2 separate regions of the Homo sapiens genome follow, and region 1 is linked to region 2. The links come from fine-mapping of genetic effects on gene expression. A gene starts in region 2. The other region holds a variant in brackets. All regions are shown on one strand. Distances are from middle to middle. Region 1 overlaps NRCAM (neuronal cell adhesion molecule). Region 2 holds the start of NRCAM (neuronal cell adhesion molecule).

What was found.
Region 1: its variant is fine-mapped to the expression of NRCAM in neural progenitor cells (Aygun 2021, PIP 0.95).

The regions. Positions count from the first base shown.
Region 1 is chr7:108,290,577-108,295,952 of GRCh38, forward strand. All of the region lies in intron 3 of NRCAM (neuronal cell adhesion molecule), which reads right to left. Among named protein-coding and RNA genes, the nearest start is that of LAMB4, 160 kb to the left of the region's middle. The variant C/A (reference allele first, on the strand shown) is at 2,667.
Region 2 is chr7:108,453,721-108,459,096 of GRCh38, forward strand. NRCAM (neuronal cell adhesion molecule) reads right to left here and starts at 2,716. Exons shown (of 33, transcript NM_001037132.4): 1 at 2,523-2,716.

The DNA.
Region 1 (5,376 bases), 160 kb before region 2:
CTTTGTGATTACAACTATCTAAACATTTCCGACAGATTTCATGTGGTAATGTTTTTCTGAATGCCATTTTACAGAACTTAAACAATAAAGAATTAAAGTTAAAACTTGAAAAAGATAATCAAAGAAAATGAACTGTAATCGTTTTTTAGAAGCTAAATTGCATCAACATTTGACTATCCATTATGTCTTTTGTCATTTCAGCATTATGTACTATCATTATCTATTCTTTCAGGGTTCTGAAAAGGCTTTAGAATCTGCTGATTGTCATCAACTCGCTACTGTAGCCTCAAAGCTCTGCAGCACTGCTGGACCATGGCAAATGTAAAAAAGATAGTTAACTATTGCAAATAGGGTTTCTGCTGCCAGATAAACAGCATTACAAAGCTGGAGTTAAGAGTGCTCACATCTGGGCACTTTCAGAGAGAAATCTTTCAGAGAAAATGAACAAAACCACTTGGGATTAGTCACATTTCCAATGCGAAAACCGGCGAGTCCAGAATCTAGTCACTCAGTCGTTGACAGATAAAATATAGAAGATCAAAAGAAAAGGGCTGCATTTCTGGGCAACTCCTTCCTCCATATAACCTCAATCCAACACCAAATTAATTTACATAGCATGAGTGTTCTGAATTAAACATGCCATGGAAATATTTTATTATCTCCTGCATTTACTTTGGATAAATACTACTTAATTGGACTCCCTTCTGAGTAATTCAAAATGCACTATCTCAATGGGAAATAGAATTAGTTTCATTATGCAATTTATTTTTTAGTTAAAAATAGCCAGCGAACAAGCAAATGCTTAGAGGTCATATGCCTGATGCTATATAATTAGAAAACCAGAGATTAATACAGTGTAATGACTGGCATAACAACATAGAAAAAGACAAGTTGATTTTAAAGAGTTTGTACTTTCTCAAATGTGTCTTTCTTGACAGGTAAGCATGAGTCAGGACTGGCTAACGATAGTTATCACTGACTGGTTTTTAAGTATATTTGTTATGTATGTATATACTTAATGCATCTAAATGAAGACAGTGATCAATGTTTCTTTTGACCGTGCCTGAAACTAATATATCACCACAAATTCTCTAAGTTACAGAGAACAGGAGAGGAAGAGAGACAGAGCGACAGAGAGAGAAGAGAAAAGAAAGTATAGAGGAAGAGACACAATTTTATTACTCCATAAGAGGAGTTGCAACCTGACTATAATCTTAAACTAAAACATTTAAAAAAAGGATCTGAAATCTAAATGGCCGTAATTTTCTGAAAGAACACTGTGGTGTTACACAAAGACAACCTGACAGAAATCAGAAAGTCTTTGTTTCCAATTAGTTTAGTGGTCTCAAACTCAAATGCCTAAGGGGGCCAAGCAGTTAAAGCTAAAGAATACAGCTGTGCAGCGGAGGAAAGGGCACTGGGGCCCCGCTTAAACAGTGCAGGGTGCTGCTACTCAGCTTTAGCTGATAGTGGTCAGGGAAATATACACCCAGTTTTGCAGATCACTTCATTTTTCTTTTAGCCAGAAATTCAAACTTTTATATGAAATCAACTGTTTTTTAAAATGGTACCAACTAATTTAAAAGTGCTATGTGGCTTCAGGGCTCTGGGTGTAAGAAATACATCCAGGGCCAGATGCTGTCTAGACCTTGCATGGCTACTAAGTAGCTCTGGTCCCTTTGGGACTGTTTCCTAATCGGTAAAATAATATGTCCAAGTTTCTGTTGGCACTAGATGCTTATTCTGGTCCTTTTATGTAGCACATTTCTTTACTTGTGAAAAAACGGTTTAGATATTTTAATTTCCAGTGTTAGAATACTGAAACAATATCAAAGTCAGAAAGGATAACCTGAAAACATGGATGCAATTGAAGTTTTAGAGACTTGCTTACTAACTCAGGAGTATGTTTTATCCACAAAAGTTTGTGTTGTTAAATATGTCACACAGAGTTAAGTAAAAAATCATCAAACCAGTAGAGACAGCAGTTTCAATTTTTGAGAGGCAATGCTTCCTAGTGGTCAAGAATACACACTGGAACCAGTCTGACCTTGGTTCAAAGCCCAGCTCCTCACTTACTAACTGACCTTATGCAAGTTACTTAAGGTCTGTATGCCTCAATTTCCTCATCTGTAAAAATGGGGATCACGGCTCCTATCTCATAGGGTTATTACGAAGTTTAAGTGAGTCAGTGGAAAGTGCTTAGAATGGTGGCTGACACAGAGAAAGCATTAGGAAAAAATTAGCTGTTGTTATTTTAACTGGCGTAAAACAGCTGAGTGTTAAAAGCACAAATGAATAGCTAAATCCAGCAAATCTCCTACACTGGTTGAGCTAGCATTTTACTGTAAAATATTTAAAAGACATTAAACCCAATCTTTATCTGATGAAGGCCCAAATCAATGGTTTGCTAAAATCCATTTACAAGTTACTCCACTGGTAACTTGTAAATGAAGACCTAACATGCAACAATTCATAGAAATCTAACAGAGGTCAACCCAGAAAACGGGGGTCAATGCAGTGGAACAGGGGCCATGGAAAATCAAACGGTGTGAATGCCTCATCCTTGGTTTCCACCCCCTTGTGATTAATTAACAGCCTTACTGCATCCACCCACCAGCTGTATCCTAGCTCATAGGCCTGACCCCAACTGAGGACTACAACAGTAT[C/A]ATGAAAACTGTGCTTCTAATTGTCCAGCGGGCGATCACGGCTTGGCTAAGAAAGGCTCTTTTCACTCCCCTCCTTTCTGATTAACTAGATGGCTTTATAAATCGCCTTAATAAGTTCATTTGTGTAACCCAAGGCTAGCTGCCCTTCCTTCCTGCTGCTAAGAGGGCTCAGCTGCTTATCTTTGGATATGACCCATCAGAAGAGAATTGCAAAAAAACATTTTTAAATCTGCTAAATTGACAAGCAACGCTGATCTCACGTCTCCCCTAATTTAGTCATGTTTTCCTACGTCATAAAGGAAGTCTAAGTGCAGGCAGTACACTGTGATACTGGCAGAAATCTTTTGTAGATTATTTTAAAACCCTTATGATTGTCTCCTAAGCAGTAAATTTGATAACTGCCAACAGGACTGTGTAAAGTAACTAAAATTCACAGACATTTTTATCATTTCTAAAAGGTTTTCATATGTATTATATCATTTAGTCTTCACCAAAACTCTGCAAGATATTATTATTATTCTTCTCTTTTTACAAATGAGAGATTTAGGCTCAGAGAGCTTACGTAACTTGTATAAGATCACATTATTACTGTGAGTTAGATACCGGCTTGATTTCAGGTCTTCTAATTTTAAACTCAGGGCTCTTTCCACTATCACACATGTGCTGATTAATTCACCTATTGTCTTTTAGCCCACACCTGTTCCTCTATACCTTATACTACTGGAGCCAGGAGTTTGCACCCTAAATTTCTCATACTCTTACTAGTTGTCTTTCCCTTGGGTTCTGCTAATTGGAGGTACTGGTGAGCAATAAGAAAGCAGGATAAAGACAAAAGATTCTTGGTTCTGAATCTTAAAATGAGGCAGTTGATGGCAATTGCTGTAGGAGCAGTAGGGTTGATGTGATTTTGGGCTCCAGCAGCCCAGGAAAAGCCAGCACTTTCTTTACTGGTTTTTTTTTTTTTTTTTTTTTTTTTTTCCTTTTTTGAGACAGCAGCTCTTGAGTGAACTCACAGTCAAACTCAAGTGTCACCAACCCACTTGGACTTTCAGGAACAAGCTCATGGGCTCCTGCCCAGAAGGGCTAACTGCTTCGAATCTGGGGATCACCTCTTCTTCCTTTATGTTCCTCCAACACCCCTCTTTCTCCCTGTTGCAGTTCCAGCTTTTCCAGTATATTTCCTTGTTCAAAATTCCTAAAGTGGCTTCCATTTTCCTGCTGAATGTTGCTTTGCACCCAGATGGAAGTCAAGGATATTAAAAGGGATATAAAGCAAATGACACTGTCCCTGCCTTGAAGGAATGTGTAATTTTCTAGATGATAGAACGAATGCATTTGAACCAAGAATAAACAAAATAGACATATCCAAGGGCTTAGGTAAATTGTACACAGACTACTTGTGCAATGGGAAGGAAAATGGGCACTTCATCACAAACTCTATTTGTGTGCTGTGAGGAGAGGGACTTGCATTTATGTTTTGCCTTTGGCATGCAGTCTAGTCTGTTCTCAGTGGATCCAGAAGCAGCCCCTTGTCTAGCTCACCCTTACGGTCTTCCGAATCACTTCCCCTTTTTTGGACATGCTTAGTTTATACTTCCTGCCCCGCAGCCATCTCTGGTGCCAAGTTGTCTGCCCCATTCTTGTTCAGTTTCCTGTTCATTAACTTCTGGCTCATTATTACATTAGTATCCCTAAAGTCCACATTTGCATCACCACACATGAAAAACGTTTTGTCTATAGCAAAAAGGGGCACAGTGATGACATATATGATTTGGTACAGAACTACTAATAACAACAGGGGTTAAGAATGGGTGAAAAAGTGATTAAATGATGAAGAGATTGTCAAGTATTTTGCAGCCCTCATTAAATCTGTTGATTTTGTATTTTTCCCCTAAAATGGAAGAATTCTGTGTCATTTGGGATTAAGTTTTATTTAATTTTAAAATGACAACTACTCTTTACAGAGGGCTCGCTCTGTACTAGGCACTTTTCATATGTTAACTTTTTTACACCTCTCTAAAATCAAATGTTCTATAGATGAGTAAAGTGGGGTCTACAGCAGCTAAGTTACTTCTCCATTCTCTTAGTCTATTCAGGCTGTTATAACAAAGTACCATAAACAGGGTAACATAACAGAAATTTACTTGTCACAATTCTGGAGGCTGGGAAATCAAAGGCCAAGGTGCTGGCAGATTCCATGTCTGATGAAGACCTACTTCTTGGTTCACAGATAATTTCTTGCTATGTCCACCCACAGTAGAATAGGGCAAGACAGCTCCCCGGGGCCTCTTCCTAAAGGCACTAATCCCATCCAATAGGGCTTAACCTCATGACTTAATCAACTTTCAAAGACACCACATCCTAATGCCATCACATCAGAGATTTAGGCTTCAACATATGAATTTTGGGGGGACACAAACATTCACCTCATAGCATTCATTGTTTCTTGTTATTGGCAAAGCCAAGACTCACATTGTCTAAGTTATTTGACTTTTGAGTCCGCAGATGTGAAAACAGTGCTAAACAGTCCATCTTCATGAGTGGAGAACAGCATTTGTGACAACCACCAAAGTACCTCTGTGGTCAGTGTCCTCAACCAGGGCACAGCATCATGGACCAGAGCCTCTGCAGGGCACAGAGGAGTGGTGAGGAACAGGGGCTCTGGAGCAACCCCACTTCCCTCTGCTTTGTATATGGGGGGTTCTGCACA
Region 2 (5,376 bases):
ATGCAAAATAAATCAATTTTTCCAATTGATCAGTTAATTATAATTCTAAAAGCTATTCCAGAAATAGCTGATTCCACTTTGGTTCAAATTTTCCTTTTTTACTAGTTAACATGGAGCATCTTCATAAATGCCCCCACATGTTTCTATATATTTAGGAAATAGAATGATTTCCTAAGATTGGATGCTAGGGTCCTATTCAAACTCAACATCCAATTTGAGGAGTAACTCATTTGCAGTCAAAACCGTGTACAAAGGACATTCAGGGCTGGGGACCTTTTCTTTAAAGAAAAAAAAGTTTTATGAAACTTTATGATGTGCCAGGAACATCTATGTAATCACAGAGGCCCTGGTTACTAAGAACATGTTGTTCAGTGACTGTAATGGGTTGGATTGTGGGTTAACAGCCACGTACTTAAAAGCTAACAGGAATAAAAGAATATGTAAAGGAGTTACATGGGAATAAAAGGCTATTCCACAATACAGTTCTCTGAATCACAATATTGCCTGCTACTGTGAGTTCTGCAGAGCTCCGAATTAAATGGGCTTGTAATGTATCTCCCTGGTTTTGAACACTCAGTGGTTTAGGTTTCCCCTAAACTGATAAGCCTCCAAAAGGCCACAGTCTCAGTCTTGGATTGTAAAGCACAAGGACAAAAACAATCCCACTCCCCTACTTCCTAGCTGTGTGGCCTTGGGAAAGTTACTTGGTTTCTCTAAGCCTTCATTTCCTAATTTTTAAAATGGGGTTGCTGTGAGAATTAAATGAGATGATACATGTAACATGCGCAGCGCCCAGCACATCTAAAGCTCTCAAAACCGGTTGGCTATCGTTACCATTAAAGCAGCAAGTATCAGTTGCCTAACTCCATTTCAGTACTTCAGCAAGTACTGCCATTATTACAATATTTTAACAGCAGGGCATGGTTAGCACAATGCAGTCCCATAAAGCAGCCCAGCCTCCGAGGTTTGTATTCAGAGGTTACTGTGTTCCTTTCCAGGACCACCCCAGGGGGAGCTCCTGGTGCACAACCAATGCTTCCTGCCTCATTACACTTGGCTCCATCTCCTCCTGCAAAAGCCTGGGGCGAGGAAGAGCCCAGTCTCTTAGACCCGCACTTCTGAGCGTTAACCATCTGGGACTCGGAAAGGAAAAGAAAGCTTTCTTCTCAGGACAGTTCTGCGCCGGTGGTAGCCAAGGGCTGGAGCCCCTGATGCGAAGAAAAGGGAAGGAGAGAGGCGGGGTGCGAAAGAAACGCCACCGCTCGGCGCCCTCCCTCGGTGCCCGCGGCGCAGGGGCCACCCGCCAGCGTACGGGGGACGAAGATGTGGCCGCGGGCGCGGGCGGGAGGGGAGGCGATCCGGGGAAGGAAGCGGCCTGTTCGCCAGCCCCGGGGCCCGGGGAGCCCTCCAGCAGCGCTTGCGGCCCTGAGGACACCGCTTTGGGAGAAATGACGACTCCCTTGCTCACCCTACTGCGACACCCCGTCCCCCTCCGCACTCTAGCAGATGCGGGCCGGGAGTAGCTGAGCTGGCCAACCGCCTGGGACCAGGATGCGGCAGCGCCCACCCGCGCGGCGTGGAGGGGGCCGGGGGCGGCGCTCGGCGCAGATGGCGCTCGCTGCGAGATGGATGCTCCAGGGCGGGTAATCACTCCTGGCTCAACACAGCATCCCGGGCGGAGCGGATGCCAGATCCCACCGCTAAGAGCCTGGGCTGGGAAAGCAATCTTTCCAGGCAGCCCCCAGCCCGGTGCGCCGGCCCCGACAAGTCCCAGCCCTCGGAGGCAGGGCGGGGCGCAGGGACTCCCGGGACCCGCACCTGTAAGGCCGACAAAGCCCCCGCAAGCGCCCCACCCCTCTGTCCTCCGTGTCTCTCTCGTTCCGCCTCGATTCCCCGAGCCCTCTCCAGGCAGCGACTGGAGAAGCGAAGTCGGCCTCGCCCCCGAACTCCGTGGTCAGCACAGGTGTACGCACTTCCGAACAAAGCCCACGCCCAGACGTGTCCGCAGGGGCCCGAACAGGCACACGCCCGTGCGCTCCCGGCCCGGCCCCCGCGCTCCTCGCCCCGCCGGCACTGTGGCGTGACGCCCCGCGCCTCCGTGTCCAAGCCCGGGAAGCCGCCGTGCCGGGCCCGCAGGCTCTCCATGCCCAACTGCCCACGAGCAAGAGCTCTGGGCAGGGCTTCCCGGAAAGCGTGGGGTGCGGGCGCGGAGCAGAAGTTGGCCACAGGCTGGAGGGGGTGGTGGGTGCCGGCGCTGCTGGATTTCAGCTGTGCCTTCACCCAAGCGCAGGTCCCCCTGCTCCCTCTCGGCGCCCGCGGGAGTGTCGGGGGCCTGCAGGGGAGAAGGGAGTTGGAGATCTGCTTTGCCCCTCCTGCAGCGCTGCCAGCCCGGTGAGCGCTCGGCTGAACCCCGCGGCGGTGTCCAAGTGACAACGCAGCAGCCTCGCGCGTCCTCCTCCGCTCCAGCCGTCACCCCCGAGCAGGACCCAGTGTCACCGCCAGACGCGCAAGGAGCTACTTACGTTCTCGCGCCGCGCCCTCCGCTCAGCTCTGGCGCGACTGCCCAGGACCCTGGACCGCCGGTGTCCTCCGTTCTCGACGAAGCTATCCCCTCTGGCTGCTCCAGCCAGGCGGCCCCTGCGCCGTCCCCCGCGCCCGCGCGTCTGAGGCTCGGACTGCGGCGCGCGTCCGCCAGCGACCCTGGCGAAGCGAGGCTGGCCCCGCGCCGGCGCGCGCCCCCGCCGCTCCCGCCCTCTCCGCTCCCCCTCCCCGCGCCGTGCTTTTGCCCCTCCCGGCTCTCCTTAGCGTCCTCCCGTCCCCCTCCCCCGCACTCCCTGCGGGCGTCCTCCGCCTCCTCCCCTCCTGGCCAACCCCCTCTTGCCCTGCTGCTGCGACGGCAGCGAATGGGCTCCAGCCGCCGGCGCCTCGAGGGACTGGGTGGCCCCTCACCTGAGCGGCCGCCCCACCGCCAACCTCCGTCAGCCTGCGAGCGCGTGTGGCGGCGGGGGTGGGGGTGCGGGGACGGAGGGCGGGAGTGTTCCGGGGCTAGGATGGCTGGGATTTAGCTACAAAAGATGTTCCAGAAAATGGGTAGTTTTTGAATGCCACTCTCATGGGTTTAGCTTTCTGTGGGAGGTCTGTGGTCTTCTAGTTTTTTCTTTTTTAAAAAGCACTTTCTTCGAAATTCATCAGTTGGGGTGGTTGAGATTGGGTGAGTGGTTTTGGGGGTTTTGTTTTGTTTTTGCAACCGTTCTTTCCAAACACTCCCCGCCGCCCCCCACCACCGCAGAAAAAAGAGCTTTTAGCATAAGGCGGATGCTATCTATCCGCGGTAGAAACTGGGTCTTCTGGTCCCAAGGAATAGGGTTAGTTCGGATTTGCTTATTTACAAATGGGGGAGTATTATGGAGATTTTTTTTTTTTTTTTTTGGCAATGTAAATCGAGAATTAAGATTTTCCAACTGTATAGTATTTGAGTAAACACACTGCTTGCTGCATAGTTCAGGCTCCGAAGCGCACGTCTCCACTCTATCGTGGATGGTGTTCAGGATCCTTAGCCTGACCCTTGGGTCCTCCGTAATCTACTCCGGTCTGCACACAAATTACTTGTCTGCTGGGTATCACCCGACTTGACCACTTACAGCAGGCTCCAGCGCTTAGTGAGCTCAGCGGAGCCTTGATTCCTTCAGTTCTCTAATTCAGGAAAACATTTTCTGAGCTCCTCACCACCCCACCCCACCTCACCACCTCCTCCACCCCCAGCCTCCAAGGTGCTGGGGCAAGATTCAGGAATGAAAAAGAAACAGGTTCATCCTTCAAGGTCTTGACTACCCCAGTGGTCTGTTCTAACTTCAATTTGAACTTGCCCCGTCAGCTCACAGCATCTGCATGCAAGTGAGCAGCCTTCTTTTCCTTCTCCTTCTACTGCCATCCTCTCCTCCTTCTCCAGCCAAATGTGCTCTGGCCTCACAGAGCCTCCCTCGGTTCCTGAACCAGCATGATATCTGGCTGCTGGGTCATTGCACAAGTTGTTTCCACAGTCCCATCAGTGGTTCTTCTGACTCTAGTCCTTACCCAACTGCCATTCAGGTGGTACCTTGCACCTCTCAACTAATTGTCCAAATTTTCCTCTAAAATACCTTCCCCCCCGCAAAAAAAAAGATTCCATGATCCCCCTACTTGAAAGTCTGGGCTGGTGGGCTGGTTCTCTATTGCCTACAAAGTAAATTCCACATCTCCTGGTGTGCCTCTTTACAATCTGCTCCTAACTTATCTCTCCATTTTCCATAACTCTAAGCCTCTGCATGTGAGGTTCCTCCTAGCTAGAATATTGGTCCATCTCTTTTTCATTTGGCAAACTCTTGTTCATCCTTCAGAGCCTTACTTGGTTGTTACCTCCTCTGTAAGGACTATTATAATAGTGCTGGTCACCTTTTAATGATCTGTTTGCATGTCTGACTCCATAAAATTTCACTTCTTTGAGGACAATTTGTCTTATTTATTTTTGTGTAACCACATTTCTCATCAATACAAATGAAGCCACAGATAACCATAATCAACTCTCACTGCCCCATCATTTTGCCCTGTGTAAAGGACTTGAGGCCCCTCCGTTCCTTCCCCACTGCAGTAATTGCTGAGAATCCTGGGGTTGTCTTGCCTGTCCTTCCCATGTCCTTCTACTTCGTACTCTGGTTTTCCAAGATTGCCCCTCACCCCGGCCACTGAGAAACATTGATTTCTGGTCCACATTATTTTCCAGTGAATGCCACAGGGCAAACCTGTCAAGTGGGAAAATGACACCCTACTCTCTTCAGTTCTTGCCCTGGTTCTGTGTAGTAATTTATCCCCCGGGCACTGAAGCAACATTGCTTGTGTCTTCCTGTGTTACAATCTCATAAAGACCCTCTTTAAACAGCTCCTTGAACTTCTGCTTAGAATTGTTCTTTCTCTTCAGGCTCCAGTCCTGGTCTATGAAGCCAGGTTGAGGCAGACGATATTTGGTCCTGGTGAAGTCCAGGTTAGTCCTGATGCCTGGGAGACTACTTAGGCTATTGGGGGTTGCTGAAAGAATAAGGACATGAATAGAATCTCTCTCTTTTTTTTTTATGTGAGTGATGATTTCTCAGGTATAGTTTCCCTTACCTTTACAGGTAGAGTAACAATACTTAATACATAAGGTTATTGTAAGAAAGCACTGGACAGTATCTAGGACATAATAGGTGCTCAGCAAATTCTAGTTTAAGCAGTAATTATTTGATAAGATGTCTGTAATGTAAATACATGCTTGAATAAAAAGTACAAAGCCAGAAGAGAAAAAGCTCTGGAGAAGATAGGAACCACAGTGATAGTACAAAACAAAAACTAAAATTAAGTAAT